Linked DNA regions of Homo sapiens. The protein of the gene in region 1 purifies or fractionates together with the protein of each later gene. This does not show direct contact. Each region holds a gene or a part of one and is shown in the gene's direction. Other genes may lie near its edges.

The links.
Region 2: the proteins of CEP78 (region 1) and CEP43 purify together in Homo sapiens (affinity purification with mass spectrometry; 3 studies listed by BioGRID and IntAct, with this or other methods). This does not show direct contact.
Region 3: the proteins of CEP78 (region 1) and UBR5 purify together in Homo sapiens (affinity purification with western blotting; 3 studies listed by BioGRID, with this or other methods). This does not show direct contact.
Region 4: the proteins of CEP78 (region 1) and DYRK2 purify together in Homo sapiens (affinity purification with western blotting; 2 studies listed by BioGRID). This does not show direct contact.

What each region holds. Positions count from the first base shown.
Region 1 is NC_000009.12:78,231,530-78,239,212, forward strand, and holds the start of CEP78 (centrosomal protein of 78 kDa), read left to right. Parts: upstream 1-4,545; 5' UTR 4,546-4,821; coding exon 4,822-5,074; intron 5,075-7,683. UniProt on the Homo sapiens protein: Centriole wall protein that localizes to mature centrioles and regulates centriole and cilia biogenesis. Involved in centrosome duplication: required for efficient PLK4 centrosomal localization and PLK4-induced overduplication of centrioles.
Region 2 is NC_000006.12:167,016,344-167,023,607, forward strand, and holds part of CEP43 (centrosomal protein 43), read left to right. Parts: intron 1-6,065; coding exon 6,066-6,292; intron 6,293-7,264. UniProt on the Homo sapiens protein: Required for anchoring microtubules to the centrosomes. Required for ciliation.
Region 3 is NC_000008.11:102,283,608-102,290,871, reverse strand, and holds part of UBR5 (E3 ubiquitin-protein ligase UBR5), read left to right. Parts: intron 1-1,295; coding exon 1,296-1,419; intron 1,420-2,605; coding exon 2,606-2,717; intron 2,718-3,307; coding exon 3,308-3,439; intron 3,440-4,254; coding exon 4,255-4,512; intron 4,513-5,090; coding exon 5,091-5,359; intron 5,360-5,533; coding exon 5,534-5,745; intron 5,746-7,264. UniProt on the Homo sapiens protein: E3 ubiquitin-protein ligase involved in different protein quality control pathways in the cytoplasm and nucleus. Mainly acts as a ubiquitin chain elongator that extends pre-ubiquitinated substrates.
Region 4 is NC_000012.12:67,651,531-67,658,794, forward strand, and holds part of DYRK2 (dual specificity tyrosine-phosphorylation-regulated kinase 2), read left to right. Parts: intron 1-5,575; coding exon 5,576-7,183; 3' UTR 7,184-7,264. UniProt on the Homo sapiens protein: Serine/threonine-protein kinase involved in the regulation of the mitotic cell cycle, cell proliferation, apoptosis, organization of the cytoskeleton and neurite outgrowth. Functions in part via its role in ubiquitin-dependent proteasomal protein degradation.

The sequences.
Region 1 (7,683 bases):
TGCACCTGTAATCCCAGCTACTCGGGAGGCTGAGACAGGAGAATTGCTTGAACCCGGGAGGCAGAGGTTGCAGTGAGCCGAGATCACCCCACTGCACTCCAGCCTGGGTGACAGAGCAAGACTCCGTCTCGGAAAAAATAAAAACAAAACAAAAACAACAGAATAAGCAAAACAGACACGATCCCTTCCTCAAGGACCATATGGTAAACATTTATTTCAAAATGAATGCGAAATAGAATGAAGGCTATCAACAAGAGTTACGTGGTATTATGAGAGCTTATGATAGGGGATGTGATGAGTCAGGGAGGGAGGAAATGCTTCCTCAACAAAGTGACACATGAGCTGAGATGAGAAGATGCGGAGGCACTAATTAGGTGCAGAATGAAGGGAAGGACATCTCATGCAGAGCGGACAGCATGGACAGTGGTTTATTCTAAGTGTGCAGGCCTGAAAGGAGACTACTATAGGCTGGACTGCTGAGAATGAAAGAGACTAGGACACAAGACAAAGCTGCAGAGATCATACTCCATCATGCCCTGAGGATGCAGCACCCTGGAGACTAGTGCTACTCAAAGTGCCACTGGACAATGAGATAAGGAGCTTGTTCTAGAATGTAACGCAATACACTGCTCTTTTCATGAAAAAAATCTAAGCAGTATGTTTAGTGCATGTGTGATTTACATTCTGAATTGAGCTCCTCATCTTATAAGAACAGTAACAGTTCTAAAATCAATAGCTAGTCTGTGGACTCCACATTGAGTGGAGCACTATTTGAGACCATTGTGAAGTTTGTCTTTATCCCGAGAGCAAAGGGAAGTCATAGAAGGATTTGCAGAGGAGGTGGTGGCGGCTGCAGTGTGGAGCATGGATTGGAAGGCAGCTGAAGTCAGAAGAAAGAAGACAAGAAAGTTTACATTTGGAACTGTTTTCCCTGATGAAGTAAGAGGTGTCCTGTTCAGGGATGTAGAATGAAGTGTTATGGTGTATTAGTCTGTTCTCATGCTGCTAATAAAGACATACTTGAGACTAGATAATTTATAAAGGAAAGAGGTTTAATGGACTCACAGTTCCACATGGCTGGGGAGGCCTCACAATCATGGCAGACGGCAAAGGAGAAGCAAAGGCACGTCTTACATGCGGCAGGCAAGAGAGCTTGAGCAGGGGAACTCCGATTTATAAAACCATCAGGTCTCGTGAGACTTATTCACTTTCACAAGAACAGTATGGGGGGAACCACCCCCATGATTCAATTATTTCCACCTGGCTCTGCCCTTGACATGTGGGGATTATTACAATTCTAGGTAAAGTGTGGGGACACAGCCAAACCATATCAAGCAGCAACATGAAAAGAAAGAAGGAGAAGGAATTGGAACAACCACTGTGAGTAGCCACAAGGAAGGTAATGGGAAAAAGAAATGGGGACCACACATCCGTTAACATAAGACAGCTTATGTTGTTGGCCAGGTTGACATTGCTCTGTGCCTGGATCCATCAAACCTCACTGCTCTGGAAGCAAGTACAGAGAGGATGAATGTTAGAGATAAGCAGATGATATGGCATTGTGGTTCTATGGAAAGGTAAGTGGGCTAGGAAGTCGGGGTATAACAGTCTGGATTGACTGGGAGTAGAGTACAGTGAACAAGTGCTTAAATGATACCATTTACCTGTATTCTACTCAAACACTCACTCACCAGATCCCCTGAAGGAGGAGAGCTCATCTCTTATACCACCCAGTAGAACGTCCCTCCCAAGTCATGCACCTGCAATGAAGCCAAGGCATTTTGTCTTGGGCCAGGTGTGAGCCTGGTTTGTCAGAGGATCCCAGAGGTGCCACAGAGAGACAGTTTTCATTCAGTGTTCAGGGAAGTGTGTGGGTGAACCCACCAGATGCTGAAAGGAGAACTGGAGCCATTCTTTTTTTGAAGCAACTATTAAGTCATAATTTAACTGAAGCAGAGAAGAGATTATCAGGCAAGCCTTGAAAGAAATCTTGCCACACTAAAAATAAGTAAGCACAGGAAACATAAATTTTAAATGAATATGTTAAATGATTATTAATATGAGGAAGACTTCTCTGAGCTGCATTCATAGGCAGTGGCTACAGGGTGCTGGCAATAGCTTGCGGGGATAATAGGGAAGAATGTTCCTACAATTAGTCATTAGTTAGCACTTTCTCTGTGCTAACACTGTGCTAGGCATAGGGAATGTAAGCATGAATGAGACATGGTTCTTGCCTTCAAAGGGCTTTCAGACTCTGGAAGGAAAACCATCTAAAAAGATGTTTATCATTGGATGTTCTAAGTGTTATGCTACAGGGATGTCAGGGAGCACAGCAGTGAGGTGCTAAACAAGCAAGGGAGGAGAGATGAGGGTTAGAGAGAAACAGGCTTTCTAGGGAAGGTGCCCCAAACCAAGGCTGGGAAAAGAATGGAAGTTAGCCGACTAAATAAAGGAGCAGCCTATGAAAAGACCCAGACAGCAACAATAGGACATCAGAAAGTTCAAGCAGTTCTGTGTATCTAGAGAAGACATGCCAGGAAGAATGTAGCAAGGAGAGAGACAACAGAGATAGTCAAATTATGAAGGAGCTTGTATGTCAAGCTACGTGACATAGATCTGACACTGAGGGCAGTGAGAAATCTTGGCTTTCTAGGGGGCAATTTAATGGATGAAGAGATCTATCTGTGTTAGAAGTAATCTGCCTAGAGTGGGGAAGTTAAGGCTGAGCAGAAGACAAGAACACCCAGAGAAACTGTAAAATGTCAGAAGGGGTGAAAGCTGAGGGTAGAAACCTGACGAACAGCAATATTTAGAGTGGATATGCAAGAGAAGCCAAAGAATGAGACTGAGAAGAAGAAATTCGAGAGGTAAAGAAAAAGAAATCAGGTGGCTTCATGGGAAACAGGGAGGAGGGAGCTTTAAAAAGGTAATGGACACTACATTAATTGATGCTGGAGACTAGAAAGAAAATGGATAGAGCAACAAAGAAATCGTAAAGTTGGAAACAATTTAAATTACCATCAACAGAAAAACAGACACATTACTGTATGTTTCTACATGGAACTCCCATATAACAACAGGGAAAATAAATGAATATCTCTATATGTCAACACGGATGGACCTAGTAAAGGTAACGATAAGTAAAGTAGGAAAAGAAAATATAGAATGTTATATACTGCTTACTTACATATGTAGCAGAAATATAAAGACATACATTGCAACGATGAATACCAAGTTCAGAAGAGCAGTTATCTCAGAGTCAGAGAGTAGTCGTGATTGGGAAGGTGGTTACACAAAGCTCTTCAACAGGAATGGTAATGTTTCATTTATTAAGCTGGTTTATGAATATACAAGCGTTTACTATATTAAGATTTGAGCATGTCGCACATAAAAATAATTGGTGACCATATCTCCGGAATTTTAGAGACGCCTGCATATGTGTGTTGGAAGTAAGTTGGAGTATCCGGAATGCAGTGGGTGGAACAGGAATGCAATAAACACAATGTCTAAGGCTCTACCGGAGGACTATCATTGCTCTAGCAATTGCATACCAATAGAAGGAGAGGTCAATTATCTGGATTCTTCCACTTAGCTTCCACTTAACTTCCCCGTTCCTCAGTTTCCCCTTTTGTAAAGTAGAATATAATAGTATATTCCTTGAGATGTTAGGAGAATGAAATGATTTCATACTTAAACATTGCTTAAAATAATCCCGAGGACATTATTTCAAATAAGTACTAGTTACAAGGGAGTTAGCCAACATCATCGTCAGTACAAAACAAACTGATTCACAGCAAACACAATAAAGTCCTGAATTCATGAAACACTCTTCAATTTGCCAGGAACCGTGTGAGATATGCAGAAACTACAGAAATTAAGGCTTATTTGTAGATATTAACACAGACATAAAAGATTTAATGACCGCAGTTCACGTTCAATCAGCCGTTCCCACATCCCTTGAGTGCAGTCTCTGTGCTGGCTGGACACTGCAAGCACAGACACATTCCTCAGATGTTTAGACTTTTTTTAAAAGTGCGTTGTTACATCCACATTTCACTTTTTATTTTCTTTCTTTTTTTGAGACGGAGTTTCGCTCTTGTCGCCCAGGCTGGAGTGCAATGGCAAGATCTCGGCTCACTGCAGCCTCCGCCTCCCGGGTTCTAGCGATTTTCCTTCCTCAGCTGGGATTACAGGCGAGTAGCTGGGATTACAGGCGCCCGCCACCATGCCCGGCTAATGTTTGTATTTTTAATTGAGACGGGGTTTCGCCATGTTGGCCAGGCTGGTCTCGAACTCCTGACCCCAGGTGATCCGCTCGCCCCCGCCTCACACAGTGCTGGGATTACAGGCGTGGGCCACCGCGCCCGACCACACATTTCACTTTTATTCGGATCGATCAGTAAACTCTTTCGCAAACCCTCAAACTCTCCCGACCACTATCTCAGGTAGCAGCGAACTCACCCGTCCTCAGGAGGCGGGACCTGCGTGCCGACGCACAGCGAGCACGTTGACGTCTTGGCGCACCGTTCCACGGCACCGCCCACCGGCTTGAATCCCGGCGCCTCAGAGGACTATGAGGCGGGCGCCAACTGCTTGGGCCGCAGGGCGGGAGGCAGCGCGGGAGTGGGGCGTTGAGGGGCCGGCCTAGCTTGGGGCTCTGGCCTTGCGTCTTCCGACCGAATCACCGCTCCTGAGCCCGGTGCGGGGCTGCCGCTATCGCCTGGCCGTGGGTGCCGGAGCGGCCGGGTTGCGACTCAGCGTTCTTGGGTGGGCGCGGGCGGCGTCTCCGCGGCGGGCATCCCCCGAGGCCGCCCTCGGGCCATGATCGACTCCGTGAAGCTGCGCCGCGACAGCGCGGCGGACTTCTTCTCCCACTACGAGTACCTGTGCGCGCTGCAGAACTCGGTGCCGCTGCCCGCCGTGCGCGCCTGTCTCCGGGAGGGCGTGCTGGATTTCAACGCCGACCGCCTCCGCGGGGTGGACTGGGCGCCTCTGCTGAGCACCCTCAAGATCAATAAAGACCTGCCCTTGGTCTCCATCAAGAGCTTCTTCCAGCCCTGGCTGGGGGACACAGGTTTGTAGTTCCCGCCTCCAGGGCCCCTCAGTCGGTGCGGCGAAGTGGGTTTTTAGGTGAGTGGTGTCCATTGTCGGGGTATGTGTGCAATAGAAGGGGTGTGCGGCCTGGACACTCACGAGCTAGGTGAGTGGCTTAAGGTCTCTAGGGCTTCAGTGTGCTCATCCGTAACATGGGCTTAATAACGAGACCCAGGTTATGTGCGCCTTCGCAAGGATTCCCTGCGCTGCTGATGCCTGCAGAGCTCTTAGCACAGTTTGGGACATCATTAAACATTTGACAGATGTTACCTATTTTATTGAATGACTTTGATTTGCCTGATAGAGAACTAAGCAGGTAGGAAATTAATACATGTCAGCCTTTGTCTTTTTTTTTTTTTTTTTTTTTTTTTTTTTGAGACACTGTTTCACTCTGTCGCCCAGGCTGGAATGCAGTGGCAAGATCTCGGCTCACTGCAACCTCCGCCTCCCGGGTTCAAGTGATTCTCCTGCCTCAACCTCCCGAGTAGCTGGGATTACAGGCGCGCGCCACCATGCCCGGCTAATTTTTGTATTTTTAGTAGAGATGGGGTTTCACCATGTTAGCCAGGCTGGTCTCGAACTCCTGACCTCAGGTGATCCGCCCGCTTCGGCCTTCCAAAGTGCTGGGATTACAGGCATGAGCCACCGCGCCCGGCCTGTCTTCATTTTTTAAGGTGTATATAAGAAGTTTGTAAAGTGCTTTACAAATACAAGCCATTTGTAAATGTATAGTGGTATAATTAGGGATCCAGACTCTCTGATTATTCGGAAAATATGTTAGGTCAACTATGATATATGACAAAATGCTGTTATTCCTTTGAGCACTTAGCATTTTCTACATAATGGAGGCAGCTTCCTATAGACGCTAGCTAGGTAACAGGAAGGAACAGTTTGTGCAAAAGTTTTGGAAATAGGAGAGAGTATGCAAGCTGAGTTACAGGACTGGAATTTAGGTTTGAGAAAGAGCAGAGAGAGTTGAGGCTGGAAACCTTGTGGGGGCCAAACAGGGAGGGTCCTCGTTTGTCCTGTCATAGAGTTGGATGTTTATCCTGAAGGTTTTGGGAAACCGCTGTAGGATGATGAGATGGAATTTCCGTAGGAGCTCAGTCTAGCCTCCATATGGAAGACAAATTAAAATTGGAAGGATGGTGAATTGTAATCTAATGGCCCAAACTAAGGTATAGAAAAGAAGGGCTGGGGCCGGGCACCGTGGCTTATGCCTGTAATCCCAGCACTTTGGGAGGCCAAGGCGGGGGGGTGTGGATCACCTGAGGTCAGGAGTTCGAGACCAGGCTCACCAACATGGTGAAACCCCATCTGTACTAAAAATACAAAAAAAAAAAAAAAAAAAATTAGCCGGGCGTGGTGGCGGGCACCTGTAATCCCAGCTACTTGGGAGGCTGAGGCACGAGAGTTGCTTGAACCCAGAAGGTGGAGGTCGCAGTGAGCTGAGATTGCACCGTTGCACTCCAGCCTGGGCAACAAGAGCAAAACTCTGTCTCAAAAAAAAAAAAAAAGAAGGGTAGGATTTCAGATATCTAAGAGAATGGATGGGCGTGGTGACTAGTTAGAAGAGGGGGGCAGCAAGTATGGGTGACAGTTTACAGCAGCGTCTGTAAGTGAAACACAGCAGCGTCTTTCCATGACACAGCCGAGTTAACTCGAATGAGATTGGGGGTGGGAGGAGGATCTCAGTTTGTCTTTAATGTTTTAAGAGGGGCCTGTGGGGCATCCAAATGTGTCTGCTAGGCAGATCTGGGCCCAAGATTTAGGCTTTGTGGGAGGACAGGTATTTGAAGGCATGGGAGGGACCTAGATTACCCACAAAGAAGATCCAGATAATTGTAGGTCTGAAAGGTGTTTTTTAAGTGGATATGGACGTGAACATGTTTATAAGCTGAGAGAAAGAGGGAGGGTGTGCGATCTGGGAGAGGAAATGATTATTGATGTATTTAAAAACAACCTGACCACTTGTCGTGTGCCCGGCCCTTTTCTAGGCTCTGGGGTTAGCACCATCTCTTCTGCAAGGACAGTTCAACACATCTGCTTCTGAAAATAAGTCAGATTATTCTCTACATCTCATTCAGGTGCAGGAACTGTTCTGTACCTCTGAATGGACTTTAGTTAACCAAAATAATATCAGGAACCAGGCCAGGTGCGGTGGCTCACACTGGTAATCCTAACACTTTGGGAGGCCAGGAGTTTGTGACTGGCCTGGGCAACATAGTGAGACTCCTGTCTCTACAAAAAGTAAAAAATATTAGCTGGGCTTGGTGGATCTCTTGAGCCCGGGAGGTTGAGGCTGCAGTGAGCCATGATTTTGCCACTGTACTCCAGCCTGGGTGACAGAGCAAGACCCTGTCCATGACCCTCCCCCTACAAAAAATAAAAAAACCAGGAACCAAAATAAATTAAAGATGGGAGGGACCTCAGAGTCAAGGCTAGCCTACTAGATCTTGCCTAATATTTTGCACTGAATGTAAGAAAAATGTATTACAGACCATTCTCGTCAGATATTCTTCACTGAACCTTCTTTATCTCTTGCATCTAGTGGGTCTAGGTTGTAGATTTTAACCTCCTACATATTGC
Region 2 (7,264 bases), on another chromosome or scaffold:
TCCTCCTGGGGTCAAGTGCCCACTTCAGCCTCTTGGGTAGCTAGGACAACAGGTGCATGCCAGCACAGCTGGCTAATTTTTTAAAAAATGTTTTCATGTAGAGGCAGGGGTCTCACTATGGTTGTCCATTCTGATCCTCAACTGTGGGGCTCAAGTGATCCTCCTGCCTCGGCCTCCCAAAGTGCTGGGATTACAGGCATGAGCCACCGTGCCTGGCCCAGTTTTCAGGTATTTTAAAACTAACATGTATTGAGATGCTTTTTCACATTACGTGTAGGTTTTGGGGCATATGTTTTTGTATCTTTGGCAGTCACCTGAGGATTTTCCAAACCAGGCGTTACCATTCCCTGTCACACTCTCACACCATCCTGAATGAATGGATACATGGATGCATGAATGTTCCCACACTTAGCCCTGTAGTAAAATTACTTCTCTAAATAATTCATTAGTAAGTCATGGATCAGAAACTGTCGTTGGCAGGGAGAGAGGTGGGGGGCAGAGGCATGGGTGAAGAGAATTTTAAATACAGTCAGCCTCATATCTGGAGGTTTCATATGCATTGCTTTCACACCTGCAGATTCAGTCGTATGTAAATGGAAAAATGGTTATAAAAAATAATAATACAAATTTTATTTATTATTTATTTATTTTTTTTTTTTTTTATTTTTTTGAGATGGAGTCTCTCTCTGTCGCCCAGGCTGGAGTGCAGTGGCACGATCTCGGCTCACTGCAAGCTCCGCCTCCCGGGTTCACGGGAGGCTCCTGCCTCAGCCTCCTGAGTAGCTGGGATTACAGGCGCCCACCACCAAGCCCGGCTAATTTTTTGTATTTTTAGTAGAGACGGGGTTTCACTGTGTTAGCTAGGATGGTCTTGATCTCCTGACCTCGTGATCCACCTGCCTTGGGCTCCCAAAGTGCTGGGATTACAGGTGTGAGCCACCGCGCCTGGCCAATAATGATACAAATTTTAAAATAATGGTATACAACTGTCTACATAGCATTACATTTATTAGGTATTACAAGTAATCTAGAGATGATTCAAAGCATATGGGAGGATGTGTGTAGGCTATGTGCAAATACTACAGCATTTTATACGAGGGACTTGAGCATCCTCGGACTTTGGTGTCTGCAGGTGTCCTGGGTACTGAGGGACAACTGTATTGCATGAATTTTTTGAATACTTTTGCAAAACAATAGTATTTCTTTGATATTTTTCCTACATGAACAGTTTGGAAAAAAATTCTTTTTTTTTTTTTTCAGGTTCTTAAGTCAGTCTGATACAATTCAGTTTTTGACTACTGAAAAATTAAGGTTTCTCATTGTGAAACTTCTCTAGTGCTGACTTTTTGTTAATCTAGAAATGATTGGCTTCTTTATTATATGAGTGTACTATTGGATAATTTAAATATATACTAAAGCTTTCTTATGGCTGCACTATAATTTCCCATAGAGCTTATTATTAGTCTTGAGCTCCAGCCAAGAGAACTTAATGACCGTTGTAGTGCTGTGCAATAGGTCCCTCACTTTTATGAAAAGACAAAACTTGTTTTAGTTTTTTGTTATAAATGACTTGATTTGTTTCCTAGGGCTAATGTAATATAAGTACCAATATTGGGTGGCTTAAAACAACACATGTGTTGTGTCACAGTTCTAGAGGCTTAAAAATGTGAAATCAAGGTTCGCGGAGGGCTGTGGCTCCTGTTCTAGCTTCTGGTGGCTGCTAGACCCAGATGCTGTTTGGCTTGTAGATGGATTACTCCAGTCTTTGCCTCCATCTTCACATGGACTTCTCCCTGTGTTTCTCTGTGTCTCTTCCCCCCAGCAAGGATACCACTCATTAGGTTAGGACCCAGGCCCACCCTACTCTTTGAATGGACTCATCTTAACTAAATACATCTGCAGTGGACACTGTTTCCAAATAAGGTCACACTCTGAAGTACTGGGAGTTAGGGGTTTCAACATATTTCATTTGTGGGATACAGTTTGACCCATAACTTTTGTGCTTGTCCAGAGAATGAATTCTAAGGCATTGCCATGGTATGTGTGTGTGTGTGTATTTTTTTTTGAGACGGATTCTCGCTCTGTCACCAGGCTGGAGTGCAGTGGCGGCGATTACAGCTCACTGCAACCTCCAACTTCCTGGTTCAAGCGATTCTCCTGCCCCAGCCTCCTGAGTAGCTGGGATTACAGGCACGTGCCACCACACCCAGCTAATTTTTGTATTTTTAGTAGAGACGGGGTTCCACTATGTTGGCCAGGATGGTTTCGGATCTCCTGACCTCATGATCCGCCTGCCTCGGCCTCCCAAAGTGCTGGGATTACAGGTGTGAGCCACTGTGCCTGGCCTTATATTTTTTAAATCTTATTTGTTAGTTTTTAAACAATACTTAACCTTAGTTATTTAGCTTCATTTTGAATCTTCAACTTAGCCAAATCCAGGTGATACAAAACCCAAGTAACTGAAGTTTATGTACGTAACATAAGTTCGTCTTAACTCATGATAAGGGTTTTTAAAGCAGATTCCCGGGTATACATACGTATACAGATGGTCCCCAATGTTACAACAGTTTGATTTATGCTTTTTTGACTTTATGATGGTACAAAAGTGATATAGATTAAGTAGATAGCATACGTTGAGTTTTGATCTTTTCCCAGGACAGTAATCGGTGGTACGATTCTCTCTCGGGGCCAGGCAGTGACGTTGAGCCACGGCTTCCAGTCAGCCACATGGTCACGAGGCACTCTGATGCCAGGGGACTGAATAGCCAGCATTTTTTGGATATTGTGTTTTTGCACCTCATGTTTATGAAGTGCCCGTTTTCCACTTTGTGATATTTTCACTTGACGGTTGATGAGGTGAAGCGCTGTTGTGGGTTGAGCATCTGTGCACATGCATACACCTGCTGTGCACACGCATACACCTGCTGTGCACACACATACACCTGCTGTGCACACGCGTACACCTGCTGTGCACACGGGTACACCTGCTGTGTACATGGAGGAGCCACTGAAACTGCTCTCAGCGTTTTCAGTGCTTTGGTTTTAATCTGCAAAATGTGTTGATGACAAATCTTTCTCCTCTTCCTGTAGATTTTTTTAATAGTGAAGTTTATTTGGAATTAAGTTTAGTGAATTCATTAATAACCTAGTTGGTAATGGTCTTTTGGCAAAAATGAGCCATAGTTATAAAGTAGTAACATGTTACTGTGTGGTTTAGAACTAGATTTTGAGAGCAGTTCCAAAGCAGATTGTTTCAGAATTTATTTTTACTCCCTGGATTAAGAGAACTATATTTTTAAAATAATTCTGTTATGTTTACAAGTATGTGTTGTGTAATATAGTAATGCCCTTCTCCGTAAAACTTGTCTTCCTAAAACTGGTCTTTCTGTCTATAGCGGGAATATTGGTCAAACCTGTCAAATAATCATGGATACCTACTAGTTGCTCAGCTTTGATACTAGATAGTTCATTATGTGGATTTAAGTTACATTGGCAGTGTGAATTCTTGGGGAAATCAGAATAATTATTGTTTCTCATAATATTGCTTTACATTTACATTTTTCAGTTTCTGTCATGCCAGTTATTCTTTGGCACTTTCTCATGAGTGTTTAGAAGGAGAGAATCTGTCGTGGCCACAGGCTGTGTCATTGTACATATGTTTAAATATCACATCAGGGTATTTATTTCCAAATGCATATTCTTTTAAAAAGACATAAATCCATTATTAAAACAGTGTAAAAATCAGAAATTACAACTGCTGTGAATTACATAATATTTTTCTATATTTGATAATACCAGGAAAATGTCAAGAAAGTTGTTAGGAAATTTTTGAAAGTTTCCATCCCTTTGAAAATATGTTGTCTAAAATTATAACTTGCTATTTATTTTTTCAGACATCTCTTTATAATCATTAATTTATATTAATAACATGGAATGTGTAGCTCTCTAGAAGGCAATAAAATTTGCACAGCATATATCTTGCCTACTGTCAACTAGTCAAGACCTCTACCTGGTGTAAAGATGTAAACGTATATCATAAGACATGCATAATGCATTCTGTCTGTACCCATATGAAAAGTGAAACCATCCTTCAGGAGCGTCTTGTTCGGTAATGTCTAACCCAGACTTTGGTCACCATGCTTCAGTAGTTACTACTCTTTAATTCTTTCTCAGCCATCCATCCCTTCCTAGATATAATTTGATCTGAAAAATATGAATCTAGTTCAATTCTTGAGGAAACTCATGCCTAGGAAATTAATTTACTTAAGATTACACGGGCCATGTATGGTGGCTCACGGCTCACGCCTGTAATCCCAGCACTTTGGGAGGCCGAGGCGGGTGGATCACTTGAGGTCAGAAGTTCGAGACCAGCGTGGCCAACATGTTGAAACCCTGTTTCTACTAAAAATACAAAAATTAGCCAAGCGTGGTGGCACGCGCCTGAAATCCCAGCTACTCAGGAGGCTGAGGCAGGAGAATCGCTTGAATCTGGGAGGCGGAGGTTGCAGTTAGCCCAGATTGCCCCACTGCACTCCAGCCTGAGTGACAGAGCGAGACTCTGTCTCAAAAAAAAAAAAAAAAAAAAAAAAGATTATACGACTGGGTGTAGTTTGTGCTTGTAATCCCATAAACCCAGCTACTTGGGAGACTGAGGCAAGGAGGACTGCTTGAGCCCAGGAGTTTTAAGACCAGCCTGGATGACATAGTGAGAGCCTGTTTCTTAAAAAAGAAAAAAAAAAAAAAGAAAAAAAAATGGAGTTAATAATTTTGGACTACATTCCAGATTCCTTGTTTCAGTTGAGTGCTTTTTCTATTATTCCACGGGTATTTTACACAATACTGCTCTCTTTAGTATGCAAGGCTGAATTTTGGGAAATTGCCATTTTTAACCCATAAAGCCCACAAATTCATTATAATTTAGCTTAATAGCATAAATATTGAGTTAACCTCTGGAAGCAGGCTTTGACTTTGATATTGACCTGACCACTTAACTCTCTGGAGACTTTGACAAGTGACATCAATGTCTGTCTCTGTGTTTCCTGATTTATATCCACAGATAGAAAGCCATCTCCAGATCCTAGGGCCATTTTCAAGATTCAGTGAGATAAGGTGAAGCATTTGAATGTTCTCCATAAATGTCAGCTGCTTTTATTATTACTAGCATTATTTTTTGTTTTCATTATTATTATTAACATAGACCCGTCTAAGGGCAGAAAGAAATCTGACCAAGAATGGAGTGAAAGTCGGCTGTGAAGGTTAGGACTCCCTGAAAACAAAAAAGAAAAGTGGTAACATCACTCTGTATCCAAGGGCATGGATAAGGATGATTCAGAATTTTTTTATAACATTGATGTTAATATACATAGAGAAATACACACACACACACACGTATATATGTCCATGGACATCAAAATGAGGTATAGGTTAGGAAGTTACCCTGGAAGTTAGAATTGAGATAATTACTTTGATTAGCAAAGGTTTATGTTAGAAATATGAGTGGTTGAAGGCAGCGCCTTTCACCTTGATGCCTGTTGTGTTTAGCACTGGATAGAAAATTGCTATTTTTACTGATGACTACTTTAATGCTTGGTTCATTCATATGAAATAATCTTTCTTTTCTCCTTTAATAATAATGATCTCTCCTGATTTCAAGTTGAAAATGTATTAATTTAAGATAACTTATGAAGCAATGACATATGGAAGAGGAGATGGGAAATTGTTTCTCAATGGGAAAGTGTTTATAAATGGGATAGGTATACTAAAGGTATTTCCATTTAGGGAAAGAGGAAAGGAATGGTATTAATATATTTCTCTAATATTTTTCCCCCTTTGAAAGTTTGCCATGTTAGGAATCCTGGGGATGGAGTGATGAATTGTGGCATTGCTCTGCAGTTCACGCTGCTGAGAGCTGCCCCAACACACACACACACACACACACACACACACACACACAAAGGTTGCACACACACAGGTTTGATTATGCTCATGAGACTTCTTTTATTATTGAAAATATCTTAAAGTTTTATCTCACCAAGGAGGCCTTTTCTCTTTCCCTCTCTTTCTAGAAGGCCAATGATGAGGCCAATCAGAGTGATACAAGTGTCTCCTTGTCAGAACCCAAGAGCAAAAGCAGCCTTCACTTACTGTCCCATGAAACAAAAATTGGATCTTTTCTAAGCAACAGAACTTTAGATGGCAAAGACAAAGCTGGCCTTTGTCCAGATGAAGATGATATGGAAGGAGATTCTTTCTTTGATGATCCCATTCCTAAGCCAGAGAAAACTTACGGTTTGTGAGTAAATGGTTTTTGAGCTATGAGACTAGGGGTTTAAAAATAAGATAAATGTTTTCATTTTATAGTTAAAAAATAATGAACTATGGAAGGTTTATAATTATTGGATCCATAAATCTGACTATGCGTTGTTAATGCCTTTCATGTTGTAAAACAATCCCAGATTTTAGAAAAACCTAGACATGATTTATTCCAACAAGTAAGTGTAGATTGAGTGTCAGCCACTTGCCAGGGCTGTTCCAGGGTGGGGTGCAGCAATGATAGAAGAGGGAAGACTCCTGCCCTCAGGAAGCTCATGCTCTGGTGACAGAGTCAGGCAATGAGGGTTATGCTGCAGTGTGTGGGGTGATGAGAGCAGAGCAGTGATGGGAGCCCGAGTGTGTGGTCAGGGCAGGTGCATGTCAGCTGTCCAAATTGGAGGGGGCCTCACTTGGAGGTGCCCAGTGAGCAAAGAGCTAGAGGAGGTAAGGGAGTTGCCGTGGGTTGATGGAGCTTTGGGGAGAGGAAACAGACAGCAGGGAGGCGAGTTGGGGGTAGCAGAGAGAGCAAGATGGGGATCGGATGAGGTGGACTCAGAGATGAGGAGCTGGACGGCTTTTCTTTGAGACTGGAAGCCCTGAGGATCTTGATCTGGCGTACATTACAGAAGGATCCTGAGGTTGCTGGGGAAGGTTGGTCTTAGAGTTTCCAGTTAGGAGGCCGTTAATGATGGAAAAGGATTTGCCAGTAAGTGCTAGAGAAAAGTAATATACAGAGTGGCATCATGGTTTTTAGCCTGCAAAACTAGAAGGTTGGAAACACGTTAGATGAAGAGTGGCAAGAGCAAGAGTGGATTACACAGACAGGTGGCATGACAGCCTGGAGGCCCCTGTTGCTGTGCTAAGTTAGAGAAGATTGCTAGTGGAAATCCAAAGTAGGCTATTGAGTGTATGCGTTGGGATTGATGGAGAGGTCTGAGCTGGAGATGTAAAT
Region 3 (7,264 bases), on another chromosome or scaffold:
CCCAAGCATTTCAGGTAAGGGATGTTCAACTGTAATACGTTTTATGTATTGGTATTTTTAAATTACTCTTTTTAAATTTTTTGTAGCGTTTGGGTCTCGCTGTGTTGCCCAGGTCGGTCTTAAATTCCTGTCCTCAAGCAATCCTCCCACCTCAGCCTCCCAAAACATTGGGATTACAGGCATTAGCCACTATACCTAGTCTGTTTTGGCAGTATTATACATACTAACTGCATAACTTCTTAAAGTAACCACTTTGAGGGGCCTATAGTTCTTGTGGATGTTTGTTCTAGGATGTTTGTTTTAAAAAAGAAATACTCATTAGTTGTGGCTTCACACAGTGCTTTTATGTTTTAATATTGAAATCTCTTTAGTGGTTGGAAATACCCTTTTTCATCTCTACAGATTTTCTCTTAGCCTTTCCCACTTTTGTAATCCACGATCTCTGTTTTACCAGTTACTTATAGTTCTAGTGTTAAACATCATATTGAGACTACTTATCTGTTTGTTTGAAGGCATGGTGTTTCAGTCAACTCTCAGGTCTAATTGGTTTGATTCTCATTTCTCATAGCAACTGAGATAGGAAAGAACCTGTCAGTGCAATCACTTAAAGGTCTTTTGACTTCAACATCTTTTACCCCGTTTCATAATCTATAAATAATAGGTGACAGGGTTATTTAGCCACCAGTTTCAGATTTCTGGCCTGTATTTTAAGCTGTATTTTCTGGTTCCCCCTTTTTGTTTTATAATCCAGTCAACTGTCTTTTCTTGGTTGTCTCCAAATCAGGTGTTTAGGGAAGTGAAACTTTTGCCACTTTGCCTTTGGTTATGACTACTTTAAAATCATGCTTTTGAACTGATGTTTTCCCCACACACATCAGCAAGTCATTAGTTAATAAGCTCATTCAAAATAGAAATCATGTCAGATCTCTTAAAAGTTAGATCACTTCTATTAAACACTTGCTGTTAATGGACAGATGGTGCTACCAGAGTTTTTAGAAATAGAACTGCTGGTGGAGGAGGAAAAATCTTCCTGTAGAATTTTTCGATGGGATGGACTCATACAAATAATGTGCATCAACACAGATTTGAAATGACTTAAAAAGAAAAAACATATTCTGAGATTTATATTTTCTGATATATAGATTAAGTATTGTTGGTTTCTAAGAATTCTCAGCTCAGATTTAAAGTCACATCCTAGCAAGTGTCTCACATGTAATAAATGAGTTAAATAAAAATATGTGTTGCATATCTGAGCTGTGGCAGGAGCCCACTCATAAGCTTCTGATTCTTTACAGCTCCAGTCAGTCTCAGTCATCCTACATCATCAGGAATCCACAGCAGAGGCGCATCAGCCAGTCACAGCCCGTTCGGGGCAGAGATGAAGAACAGGATGATATTGTTTCAGCAGATGTGGAAGAGGTGATTTTAATTGTGGTAGATTTAAAAAGCTTTTATTTTATGAGAAAAGAAGAGTAGTCAGTAGAAATTACATTAATAGTAGCTTGAGACTACTATATGCGTTTGCATCCAGTTTGTAGATGTTTATTATATATTCTCATTTGTGGTTATACATAGTAAAATTATTTTAATAATTTGTGACTTACTGGATATTAGGAAATTGGACACAAACTTGTCTTTAAGGATTAAGGGTGGAGATATTCTCAGTGTTAACAGCAAAGATATTCTGGGTTTTTTTTTTTTTTTTTGGAGACAGAGTCTCGCTCTGTCACCCAAGCTGGAGTGCAGTGGCGTGATCTCGGCTCACTGCAACCTCTGCCTCCCGGGTTCAAGCGATTCTCCTGCCACAGCCTCCTGAGTAGCTGGGATTACAGGCGCGCACCACCACACCCATCTAATTTTTGTATTTTTTAGTAGAGACGGGGTTTCACTATGTTGGTCAGGCTGGTCTCGAACTCCTGACCTCGTGATCCACCTGCCTCAACCTCCCTAAGTGCTGGGATTACAGGTGTGAGCCACCGCGCCCAGCCAAGATATTCGTAATGTTAGAAAAATTTAGTAGTTTTGTACAATGTATTTGAAAGAGGATACTACATATTTATGAGGTAAATTCTCTCCTCCCTGCCCCTAGTATAATTTTTATACTTCTAACTTGAGGGTTCTGTATATGCTCAGTAATGAACTTTGGGATCTGTGGGTATAATTTTTTTATTTTTTTGAGATGGAGTCTTGCTCTGTTGCCAGGCTGGAATGCAGTGGTGCAATCTTGCCTCACTACAACCCCCACCTCCCGGGTTCAAGCAATTCTCCTGCCTCCGCCTCCTGAGTAGCTGAGACTACAGGCACGCACCATGCCCAGCTAATTTTTGTATTTTTAGTAGAGTCGGGGTCTCACCATGTTGGCCAGGATGGTCTTGATCTCTTGACCTTGTGATCCGCCCATCTCCGTCTCGGCCTCCCAGAGTGTTGGAATTACAGGTGTGAGCCACCGTGCCCGGCCAGGATATAATTTTTGATAGCAAATTGTCACTAACAAATGAAGATTTTCAAAACTGCTTGATATATGATTTCAAATTCTCTATAGTTAGTGGTCTTCGCATTTTAGTTAACTAGCTTTGATTGTCTACAAATAAGATTCTGGATTTAGGTTGAGGTGGTGGAGGGTGTGGCTGGAGAAGAGGATCATCATGATGAACAGGAAGAACACGGGGAAGAAAATGCTGAGGCAGAGGGACAACATGATGAGCATGATGAAGACGGTATGCAGGTTATTTGAGAAATTACTCAGTATGAGTAAATCAGGTACTTTTAAAGGGAGATATTAAATACAGAGAGAAACCTCATTTGAATGTATAGTGAAATGGTCAAACTTATTTTTTGCCAAGGGTTTCTGTAGCATCTATTTAGAAAATTTAGGCGCTATATATAATACATATATAAAATAGTTTCCCTTTTTTCTTTTTAAGTCAGTTTCTTAAAAGACTTTTAAAAACTAAAATAATCATAGTCGCATTATGAAACATTTGGAAATTAGAGAAAAGGAAAATAAATCACCCATAATTACACCCAGATGCTAATAGCTTGTATATTTACTTTCAGTCCTCCCCTGCACTGCCCTGATGTACTAGTCTGTTGACTACCATAATTTCCCTAGCCATTCTTCTAAGGTTGAGTAGTTACTTAGTCTTATTTTAGTAGTTATCCCTTCTCTTTCACACCATTCCCCTTCTCCCCAACTCCTACCCCCTATGCCTTCTTAGTTCCCACCCTTACGATATTCTGGCTTATCAGACCCTGTTTTAAACCATAGTGAGTTTGTGCTTTTTTCTTATTTAAATGTATTTTTTAGGGAGTGATATGGAGCTGGACTTGTTAGCAGCAGCTGAAACAGAAAGTGATAGTGAAAGTAACCACAGCAACCAAGATAATGCTAGTGGGCGCAGAAGCGTTGTCACTGCAGCAACTGCTGGTTCAGAAGCAGGTATGTTGCCTTATCCCAACTACTTTCTTGCTTATGCTAAGGCTGTGTGTGTGTATTCAGCGTGGATTGGGTCATACTTTGTGTGATATACGCAAGGGTAGCTAAGCATTTTTATAACTTCATCCTTGTTCTCTGGGTATTAGAAAAGAAAGTATTATTTTAATAACTCTTTCTCCAGCTTTTCTGGTCATTAAATAATGAATGAATTTTAAAGTTTCTTTAAAAGATTTTTATTTTCTTGCCTTTTTTTTTTTTTTTTTTTTTTTTAAATTGGGTCTCATTCTGTCACCAGGCTGGATATTCCAGTGGTGCAGTCAGAGCTCTTTGCAGCCTTGACCTCCTGAGCTCCTACCTCAGCCCCCTGAGTAGCTGGGTCTACTAGGTGCAAGCCACCACATCGGGCTAATTTTTTTTTTTAAAGAGTTGGGATCTTACTGTGTTGCCCAGGCTGGTCTTGAGCTCCTGAGCTCAAGCAGTCCTCCCACCTCAGCCTCCTCAGTTGTTGGGATTATAGGCATGTGCCACCACACCCAGCTAAAAGTTACTTATTCAGGAGGCTGAGGCATACAAATAGCTTGAACCCAGGAGGCAGAGGCTGCAGTGAGCCGACATGGTGCCACTGCAGTCCTGCCTGAGCCACAGAGCTGGGCTTGAAAGTTATTTTCTAATAAAAACTATTTTATGGTAGGTTTTGTGGATTATTGAATACAATCTGGCATTCTGTTTAATATGTATGTTTTCCTGAATGAGGGGGTACATTGTAATTTTAATTATTAAACTCACAATGTTTTTGGTTTTAAAAATAAAAATTTTAGGAGCAAGCAGTGTTCCTGCCTTCTTTTCTGAAGATGATTCTCAATCGAATGACTCAAGTGATTCTGATAGCAGTAGTAGTCAGAGTGACGACATAGAACAGGAGACCTTTATGCTTGATGAGCCATTAGAAAGAACCACAAATAGCTCCCATGCCAATGGTGCTGCCCAAGCTCCCCGTTCAATGCAGTGGGCTGTCCGCAACACCCAGCATCAGCGAGCAGCCAGTACAGCCCCTTCCAGTACATCTACACCAGCAGGCAAGTCTGAAAACTTAGTATTGCTAAGAATACTTAGATAGATTTTTTAAATTATGCATGTTCATCTGGGGATAAAATTAGTTTTATGATAGTTCCTCATTGTTTTGTTGAGTTTCAAATATAAAAAATATGTACATATGATTATAGCAGGGTTTCCCAGTCTTTGCATTATTGCATCTTTGGACTGGGTAATTGTGGGAGGCTGTCTTGTGCATTGTGGGATGTTAGGCAGCATCCCTAGCCTACACCCACTAGATGCCAGTGAAACCCCTCTCACCCTTCTTCCCCTCCCCTTGGCTCCCACAGTTGTGATAACCAAGAATGTCTGTAGATACTGCCAAATGTGTAGCCCCTTTGGCGGGGGGAGGTGGCGTGGGGGTCAGATTTCCCCTGGTTGAGAACTTTATATTAATTCTTGTCCCCTCCATACTCCTCTCCCCAAAATAGTGTGGTTTAGGCAAAGTTTTTTGCTTGGGTACCACAATTGACCATTTAGATTTACGTAAGTATATATAATCCCAGAGAAACACAATTAGCAACTGACATTAGCTCATTGTGGTTGTCCTTTTTCCTTATAGCAAGTTCAGCGGGTTTGATTTATATTGATCCTTCAAACTTACGCCGGAGTGGTACCATCAGTACAAGTGCTGCAGCTGCAGCAGCTGCTTTGGAAGCTAGCAACGCCAGCAGTTACCTAACATCTGCAAGCAGTTTAGCCAGGGCTTACAGCATTGTCATTAGACAAATCTCGGACTTGATGGGCCTTATTCCTAAGTATAATCACCTAGTATACTCTCAGATTCCAGCAGCTGTGAAATTGACTTACCAAGATGCAGTAAACTTACAGGTATGAAACCACTGAAAAGTTTCCCATTCCACTATTTTTTTTTGGCTGTCAATTATGAGAATTCCAGTATTAGGGGAATTAAATGTTAGAAACGTTTACATATTGACATACTGCTGCTGTATCGAATTTAGCTCTATTTGGATAGTTTTAACTATTTTAGTTTGGTCTTCATAGAACTATGTAGAAGAAAAGCTTATTCCCACTTGGAACTGGATGGTCAGTATTATGGATTCTACTGAAGCTCAATTACGTTATGGTTCTGCATTAGCATCTGCTGGTGATCCTGGACATCCAAATCATCCTCTTCACGCTTCTCAGAATTCAGCGAGAAGAGAGAGGATGACTGCGCGAGAAGAAGCTAGCTTACGAACACTTGAAGGCAGACGGTATGAAATTCTTCATATATACAGAACGTCCCCAACTTAAAATGGATCCTCAACTTACAATTTTTTGTTTGTTTGTTTGTTTGTTTTTTTGAGACGGAGTCTCACACTCTTACCCAGGCTGGAGTGCAGTGGTGCCGTCTCGGCTCACTGCAAGCTCCGCCTCCTGGGTTCATGCCATTCTCCTGCCCCAGCCTCCCGAGTAGCTGGGACTACAGGCACTTGCCACCCACGCCCGGCTAATTTTTTGTTTTCTTAGTAGAGACGGGGTTTCACTGTGTTAGCCATGGTGGTCTTGATCTCCTGACCTTGTGATCTGCCCACCCTGGCCTCCCAAAGTGCTGGGATTACAGGCGTGAGCCACAGCGCCCGACCCCCAACTTACATTTTTTTTTTGACTTTGTGATGGGTTTATTGGGGGTATTAAATGCGTTTAGACTTTATGCGTTTATGATGAGTTTATCAGGACATAACCACATCTTCAGTCAAGGAGTATCTATACTTGCATGTTTAGATAGAATCTTTGTATCCTAGAAGGTTAAAGCTTTTTAGTTGCTATTATGTAAGACCTCATCTTACTGTGAAGGGAGAAAGAAATGACTTGCTTGCATTACTTAAATTGTTGAGGCAGAATAGGCTAGTTATCATCCAAGCTGTTTTTAAAAATCCATTCATATCGTAGGAATCTGATACTAAAGCCTTTTTATTTTTGAAGTTATTGGTCTATATCTTTGTCTCATTATCCCCAAGACCTCCCCCTCTCCTCTTAGGAAGTTATTTTGACTATAATTGGTTATGAATGTACTTTGTACTCAGGAGGGGGAAAGTATGTGTGATTACCAGTGCTGCTCTTTTTTTCTCAAATCACATTTCTTTTTTTCTGCCTCCCCTAGTCTGTTGAATTAAAATAAAATATATATCTATGTATTTGTTATGTTCTTTCTATTCAGTTATAAAGTGACCTTTTTCAGGAGTAGGTATCAGCTCAAATATTGAACATCAGAGCAATAGCAGTAATATAGTAAAAGTGCCTCATACCTGAAGTCAAAATCCAAGGATTTGGTTCTGTCTCTACCTCAGGATAAACAACTTTGTTACTCTGGGCAGATCATAAAGTGAGGAAAGACAAAGGTCTAAGAGATTACTTAGAAAGACAGTGATAGGCATCTACAGTAGAGGTAATAGTTACTAAAGTAGGGCAGTGAAGACCAAAAGGAGGGGAGAGAAGCATTGAAATAAAAAACAGAATTTAGGGCCTTGTTGAGGGATTAAGTAGCAGGGGCATCATTTATATTTAAACCTTGATCCTGAGTAACTAATAGGAAAATTAAAGAGAAAAACCTAAGAGTAGTATAATGGACAAACTTGCTTTTGAACATGTGAGAACTGGGGGAAAAAAAATGGTAGAAATGTCAAATGTGCAGAATTGAATGCTTGGCAAAGATAGCTGTACTGAAGATAGTGATTTGAGAGGTAGCAGCTTTCCTGTCCTAGGAACGCTGCTTCACAAAGACGAAAGCCT
Region 4 (7,264 bases), on another chromosome or scaffold:
GAATGTGCTTCTCAGTACTCCTCATAATGGAGGCCTGTATTTTGCTGTGGCATATGCCAGATTTACTTGTTTTTAACGTGTGTGTAAACTTCGGTATGCTGTTAATTATTAGATGCTTGACTTTGAAGGTGTGAATTTGGGTTTCGATGGTGGTTTAGTTTTGATTTTATTTCTATAACATAGCAGATTTCATAGTACAGGAAAGGTTACAAGGACCACAGAGTTTATCTGGTTCTATTCTTTCAATTTATAGATGAGGAAACAGACTCAGACAAGGTAACTGGTTTCATCAAGATTCCCCAGCCAGTTCATATCAAGGCCAGAGTGAAAGCCTACATCCTCCTGCATCTAGTTTTAATATACTGATGGAGACTGCTAATTCTAGGAAATTGTACTAGCCTCATTATAAATGCAAGAACCTTTGTAGATCCATATTCCCATATGTCTGTCAGATTTTTATAAATTTTTAGTTATTATTTCCAGAGTAATTACACCTAGGAAGAACTTCTAGAATGAATGGGGGGCGGGAGGGCATTAAGGAGATAAAAATGATCTTGTCATAGGAGCTTGCCCACATTTTCTCTTACAGGTGATATAGTAGGCAGGTTAAATATATGATTATAAAGATTATAAACTTTGGAATTTATCTAGACCATTGCCCTTTTGTTTTATATCTCCATGTATAAGTTGTTTTACACTTTAGTTATTTCTGTTTGTGTGAGAGAGAGAAGTGTGCCCAATCACTGTCTTACTTCCTATTATTTTTCTATTAATGTTAATTGGTAGTTATTAATAGAAGTATTTTTAAATTCAAAAATATTAAAATATGTATAACTTTTGTAACTGTTTTACTATGTAAAACACTCCAGTTATCAGTTTTACCTTTATAAAATAATTCAAATTGAAATACACATTTTAAAAAATGGCAGTATTTTGAAGAAGAAAAAGTAGACATTTTTCTTTCTGACAGGGCCACACAGACTGTCAGAATGTTTGAGGAGGAGCTAAAATTCCAGTCTTTTTGGACTCAATTCTATTACCATAATACTATACAGCATTTCTAAGATGACTTCAGAAAAGTTTTTAAACGCCCAAGACTATTATCACAGTGGAATATCTGCTGTTTGCCATTTTCTTATTGGAAGAAATGAAAACTACCAAACTGGTTAGACTATTGTTTTTATATAATATTTAATACCAAAGTACTTGATGATCAAAGAAGCCTTTGCAGGTCTCTCAATTCGAACCCATAAATTGTAGCTATTTTAACAATTGTATTATGTTTTTATTTTTTGTTTTGTTTTGTTTTGTTTTTTTGAGACGGAGTCTCACTCTGTTGCCCAGGCTGGAGTGCAGTGGCTCCATCTCGGCTCACTGCAACCTCCGCCTCCGGGGTTCAAGCGATTCTCTTGCCTTAGCCACCCAAGTAGCTGGGATTACAGGCACCCGCCACCATGCCTGGCTAATTTTTGTATTTTTAGTAGAGATGGGGTTTCACCATGTTGGCCAGGTTGGTTATGAACTCCTGACCTCAAATGATCCACCTGCCTCAGCCTCCCAAAGTGCTGGGATTACAGGATTGAGCCCCTGTGCCCGGCCTCAGTATGTATTTTTAAATGTGACACACACTGTGCTATACATTGGCATATCGGAATAAGCCATGATCTCAGACTTCAAGAGGCTGAGCTGGAGGGAGAGGTTTTTAGTATCCTTAAGTTTATGATGTAGTCTTGACATACGTATTCTGGAAATGTTCTGGCATTTCTAGTCCCTCAGCACCCCCACCCTGCTCTCTGCCCCATTTTTTATAAGTCAGTTAATTGTGCTTTTGAGCTTGATTGTGATTTTAGAGTCCTGCAATGTTTGAGATTCAAAGTCTTCTTTTGCTAGAGCTTCTCAAATGAATCTCTAACATCTGGAAAGCTTTTAAGATTGCATGTGTTGCTTTTAGGTGTTTGGTTGATGTGTTTGTTGCAAGTGTTTTATACATGGTTTGATTGATGTGTCTGCTACAGGTACTTTATGCTTGGAGGTCCTTGGCCTCCAAGTCTGTGCGGATCCACTGCAAGCCTAACGTCTTGTGACTTAGGTCACCAGGGACGTTTCTTAATTCCCTGGGCCTTGACTTCATGTTTCCTTATGAAGGTACACAATGTAGTTCTCAGGAACAACTCCAAGAGAGGCAAGAGTTAACAAGGAGGATCTATTGGCATGTGTTCTTCCATCCCAAAGATATTTATTGAGGGCTTACTATATGCCTGGGTTTATGTTAATGAGGACTTGGAAACATAAGAGGGGACCCAGCCCTGGAATTGCTCACAGCCAGATGAGTACATCTGATGTTAAAACAATTGCAATAAAGAGAAATAAGTAAAAGGGTGAATCACCTAGGTATGAGAAAGGAGATTACAAGAAATATCTGGAAAGGACAATAATAATGCTCTCATTGACTGACTACTAAGCACTTTACACATATTACCTTATTTAATCCCCCTAAAAGCCCTAATGAGGTAACTTTGTTACCTTCTTTTTGCAGACAAGGGCACTGAGGTTAACAGAGATGAAATAAGTTGCCCTGGGTCACACATTTAGTAAATGGTGGAGCTGGATCATTTAATGTGTGTCTAACTGAAAATCTACCATTATGAAACCTGACCTCACTAAAAGCAGAGGAGTGTAAAAGTGTGTGGTGTTTTTTGGGTCCTGGGCTATCTAGCTTTGTTCTCTTGGAGAGAAGAGTGACAGTAGTTGATGAGAATGGAAGGACTCCGATCATTTAGCCTCTACATTTTAGAGCCTTGTGTTCTTACTGGTAAGTTCTTGCATTAGCTATGGAAATAGGTTACAGCCACAGGCCTTGGGCAAAAGCAAGAGTGGTCTCAGGTTGAGACTTTTAAATCAGACTCTAGAAGCACTATGGAGAAGAGATTTGAGGAATTCTAGACTTAGAAGCAAGGGGGCATGTTACGATGCTGCCTCAGTTGTCCCAGTGAAAGACATCAGGAGAGTGAGATGAGGCAGTGTTGATGGAAAGGGCCTGGGATAGTAATGATGCATCTTCTTGGTGACTTGGGAAGGTGAGGGAGGTGTTGAGATTTTCCAGGCACACAGTGCTGAGGATTCATTCGCAGGTGGATAGCCTGAGTGACACATGGAGGGGAAGCCTTCTTTTTATCAAAAATGGAGGATTATGGAAGTGGGAAACTGGTTTGTTAGAAAAATCATGAGTTAAGTTTGAGTTGCTTATGGGAGAGGGAGCTGATCGATAGTTGGATATGTGTGTCTTCCACTCAGGAGATAGCACCTTGGAAGGTCTGAGCTCAGGGAACAAATGCGCAAACATCAGGCCATGGGCAGTTGCTGAAGCCCTGGCTGTGTTCAGGATCAGTTGCAGGGGGTTATGGGAGTAAGAAGCCAAGAGAATCGAGATTTGAACCCTGGGGAACTCTTGAATCCACCTAAGGTTAGGTAGTAGTTGATGCTGCAAAGGAGACCAAGAGAAGGCAGTTGGAGATATAGAAGATGGTCGTTTCTTGTCAGTCTCGTTAGTTTTAGTTACTAAAACATTTGTGATCATGTATTAAATTATGCGAAACACAAAAATTGCTTGAAGTAAATTTCTGAGGCTTGGTTTTACTTTGCTGTGTTTTTAGAAATCTCTAAAGCCCCAAGGTTAATTTTGTCCTAATGAAGAGCTTTATGCTTTTTATAGCATGTATACAGGTAATGTGAATTTTTCTGCTGAAATATCACCACTCCACTCTAAAGAAAATGATTCTATAGGAGAGAGATATTTTGATTCAGGCCCCTTTATTGTCTGGTGTTTGAAAGACCACAGTGGACAGGAGAGGGTGCAGAGAGCGAGGCTGGGGAAGAGAAGCATTGGACAAGCCTGTACCTCTTTTATATATGCCCAAGACTTGCCTGATTCATTTTTATGGACTGCCCTGCTTTTGGCATAGAACAAGGGTAAAATAACCTTTCTAGCTACTCTTATTGAATATAAGGTCACCTAGCATGGAGTATCATCTATGAGTGTGATAAAAAAGCTCAGTTATAAGTCTAAGAAATGATATCCCTGAGCCTATGAAGTCACAGTCAGACAGGCCCCAAGTATTGTCTTCTGTTTTGTTTTAGTTAGAAGTGGGCAGAGAGGAAGCTCACACTCCACATAGTCATTGTGCATATTATGTATCCAATAAAGAAAATGTGAACGTCTTGGTCTGCTAGTAAGAAGGAGTTGGAATTTCATTTTGTAATCCAGGTGTTCCCAAATCATGTTTTGAATTACTGTGTTACATATACAGAGCCCTTCTGCTCTTTCAGTAGTATGTAAAGCCCCAAAGGTAGGATTTAAAAGGGGATAGTAGAAAAAATACTGATGGCAGTGGACTTCATCTAGTTAATTGTAAGTTCCTGGAGGGCAGGGACTCTGTCACTTTGGCAGCCAGCCTCCTGTTAATACCAGTTGACTGAATGAGGTGGATTGTGATGACAAGGTGGTGTAAGATTTCATACAGAAATCACCTGCCAGGCTGCTTTAAGACTAGGGGTTGTCCAAGGCAGGAATTCCTAACTGGGAGAGGATCCTGGCTGCCAGTCCTCTCCTACCCCTTACCTCTCAGCAGCCATAATGCTTAAAGGAAATCCCAAGAAGATTCTCAGTAGAGGGCTGGGGTCCCTTGGTTCACACCATTGATAGAATTTAGACAGGAATGTTCAGGGATGGCATGCATACCTGAAACAGAGGTTGCTTCTTTGGATTCCTATTTGGAAATCTGAGTATCCCAGCAGCTTGTAGAAATGGACATCTTCAGAGAGCTGAGCCACTGACCCCTCCGGAGGAAGGCCAAACAGTGTGGTCGTTGCTTGGTTTGTTGGGCTGAATGCCTTAAATGGTTATTACAGTTAGTAAAGCCTGGAAACTTTTAAAAATAGGTCAGGGGTCCATAAGATACTATGGTACACATCTACATGGGAATCTTTCAAGTCTAAAAACACAGGGTTTTTGTTTTTGTCACTGGATCATGTGTGCACTTAGGTTTCATCAGATTTTCAAGGAAAGGGGAAATACTGGTGATGAAGTGTTTTCAGGATAGAGCTCTAGGTATTAGGGAAAGAGTAGTGAACAAGACAGACATGGTCCCTGTCTTCATGTTAATAAACTACTAGATGAAATATGAAAGGTGCTGTGATCTGGGGGTGGAGGAGCCAACATAGAGTCTTATGTGTGCATGTTTTTTTCTGTATCCTGTTTCATTTTTGTATCAAATGTGGATTGAGTGGAACACCTATGATGTGCCAGGCCCTATACTAAGTGTTAGATATAGAATGATAAAGTTAAGGTCTCTGTCTCCGTGGGGAACCCTGAATATGTACAGCAAACCATCTTGTCTGTTAGGCATGGCATTTATGAGGTCCATTTTTCAGGATCACATGTTTTGTGGCTTTTACTCAAACCAAATGGGATTTTGTAAATGTGAGGTTGGGGGCGGTGGTGTTGTTGGGGGTTACTTATACACCATTTGAACAGACACCACTTCTTTTCTATTTATATTTCCTGTCTGAATTCCAGATTGGCGGCAGTAAGCACACAATGAATGATCACCTGCATGTCGGCAGCCACGCTCACGGACAGATCCAGGTTCAACAGTTGTTTGAGGATAACAGTAACAAGCGGACAGTGCTCACGACACAACCAAATGGGCTTACAACAGTGGGCAAAACGGGCTTGCCAGTGGTGCCAGAGCGGCAGCTGGACAGCATTCATAGACGGCAGGGGAGCTCCACCTCTCTAAAGTCCATGGAAGGCATGGGGAAGGTGAAAGCCACCCCCATGACACCTGAACAAGCAATGAAGCAATACATGCAAAAACTCACAGCCTTCGAACACCATGAGATTTTCAGCTACCCTGAAATATATTTCTTGGGTCTAAATGCTAAGAAGCGCCAGGGCATGACAGGTGGGCCCAACAATGGTGGCTATGATGATGACCAGGGATCATATGTGCAGGTGCCCCACGATCACGTGGCTTACAGGTATGAGGTCCTCAAGGTCATTGGGAAGGGGAGCTTTGGGCAGGTGGTCAAGGCCTACGATCACAAAGTCCACCAGCACGTGGCCCTAAAGATGGTGCGGAATGAGAAGCGCTTCCACCGGCAAGCAGCGGAGGAGATCCGAATCCTGGAACACCTGCGGAAGCAGGACAAGGATAACACAATGAATGTCATCCATATGCTGGAGAATTTCACCTTCCGCAACCACATCTGCATGACGTTTGAGCTGCTGAGCATGAACCTCTATGAGCTCATCAAGAAGAATAAATTCCAGGGCTTCAGTCTGCCTTTGGTTCGCAAGTTTGCCCACTCGATTCTGCAGTGCTTGGATGCTTTGCACAAAAACAGAATAATTCACTGTGACCTTAAGCCCGAGAACATTTTGTTAAAGCAGCAGGGTAGAAGCGGTATTAAAGTAATTGATTTTGGCTCCAGTTGTTACGAGCATCAGCGTGTCTACACGTACATCCAGTCGCGTTTTTACCGGGCTCCAGAAGTGATCCTTGGGGCCAGGTATGGCATGCCCATTGATATGTGGAGCCTGGGCTGCATTTTAGCAGAGCTCCTGACGGGTTACCCCCTCTTGCCTGGGGAAGATGAAGGGGACCAGCTGGCCTGTATGATTGAACTGTTGGGCATGCCCTCACAGAAACTGCTGGATGCATCCAAACGAGCCAAAAATTTTGTGAGCTCCAAGGGTTATCCCCGTTACTGCACTGTCACGACTCTCTCAGATGGCTCTGTGGTCCTAAACGGAGGCCGTTCCCGGAGGGGGAAACTGAGGGGCCCACCGGAGAGCAGAGAGTGGGGGAACGCGCTGAAGGGGTGTGATGATCCCCTTTTCCTTGACTTCTTAAAACAGTGTTTAGAGTGGGATCCTGCAGTGCGCATGACCCCAGGCCAGGCTTTGCGGCACCCCTGGCTGAGGAGGCGGTTGCCAAAGCCTCCCACCGGGGAGAAAACGTCAGTGAAAAGGATAACTGAGAGCACCGGTGCTATCACATCTATATCCAAGTTACCTCCACCTTCTAGCTCAGCTTCCAAACTGAGGACTAATTTGGCGCAGATGACAGATGCCAATGGGAATATTCAGCAGAGGACAGTGTTGCCAAAACTTGTTAGCTGAGCTCACGTCCCCTGATGCTGGTAACCTGAAAGATACGACATTGCTGAGCCTTACTGGGTTGAAAAGGAGTAGCTCAGACCT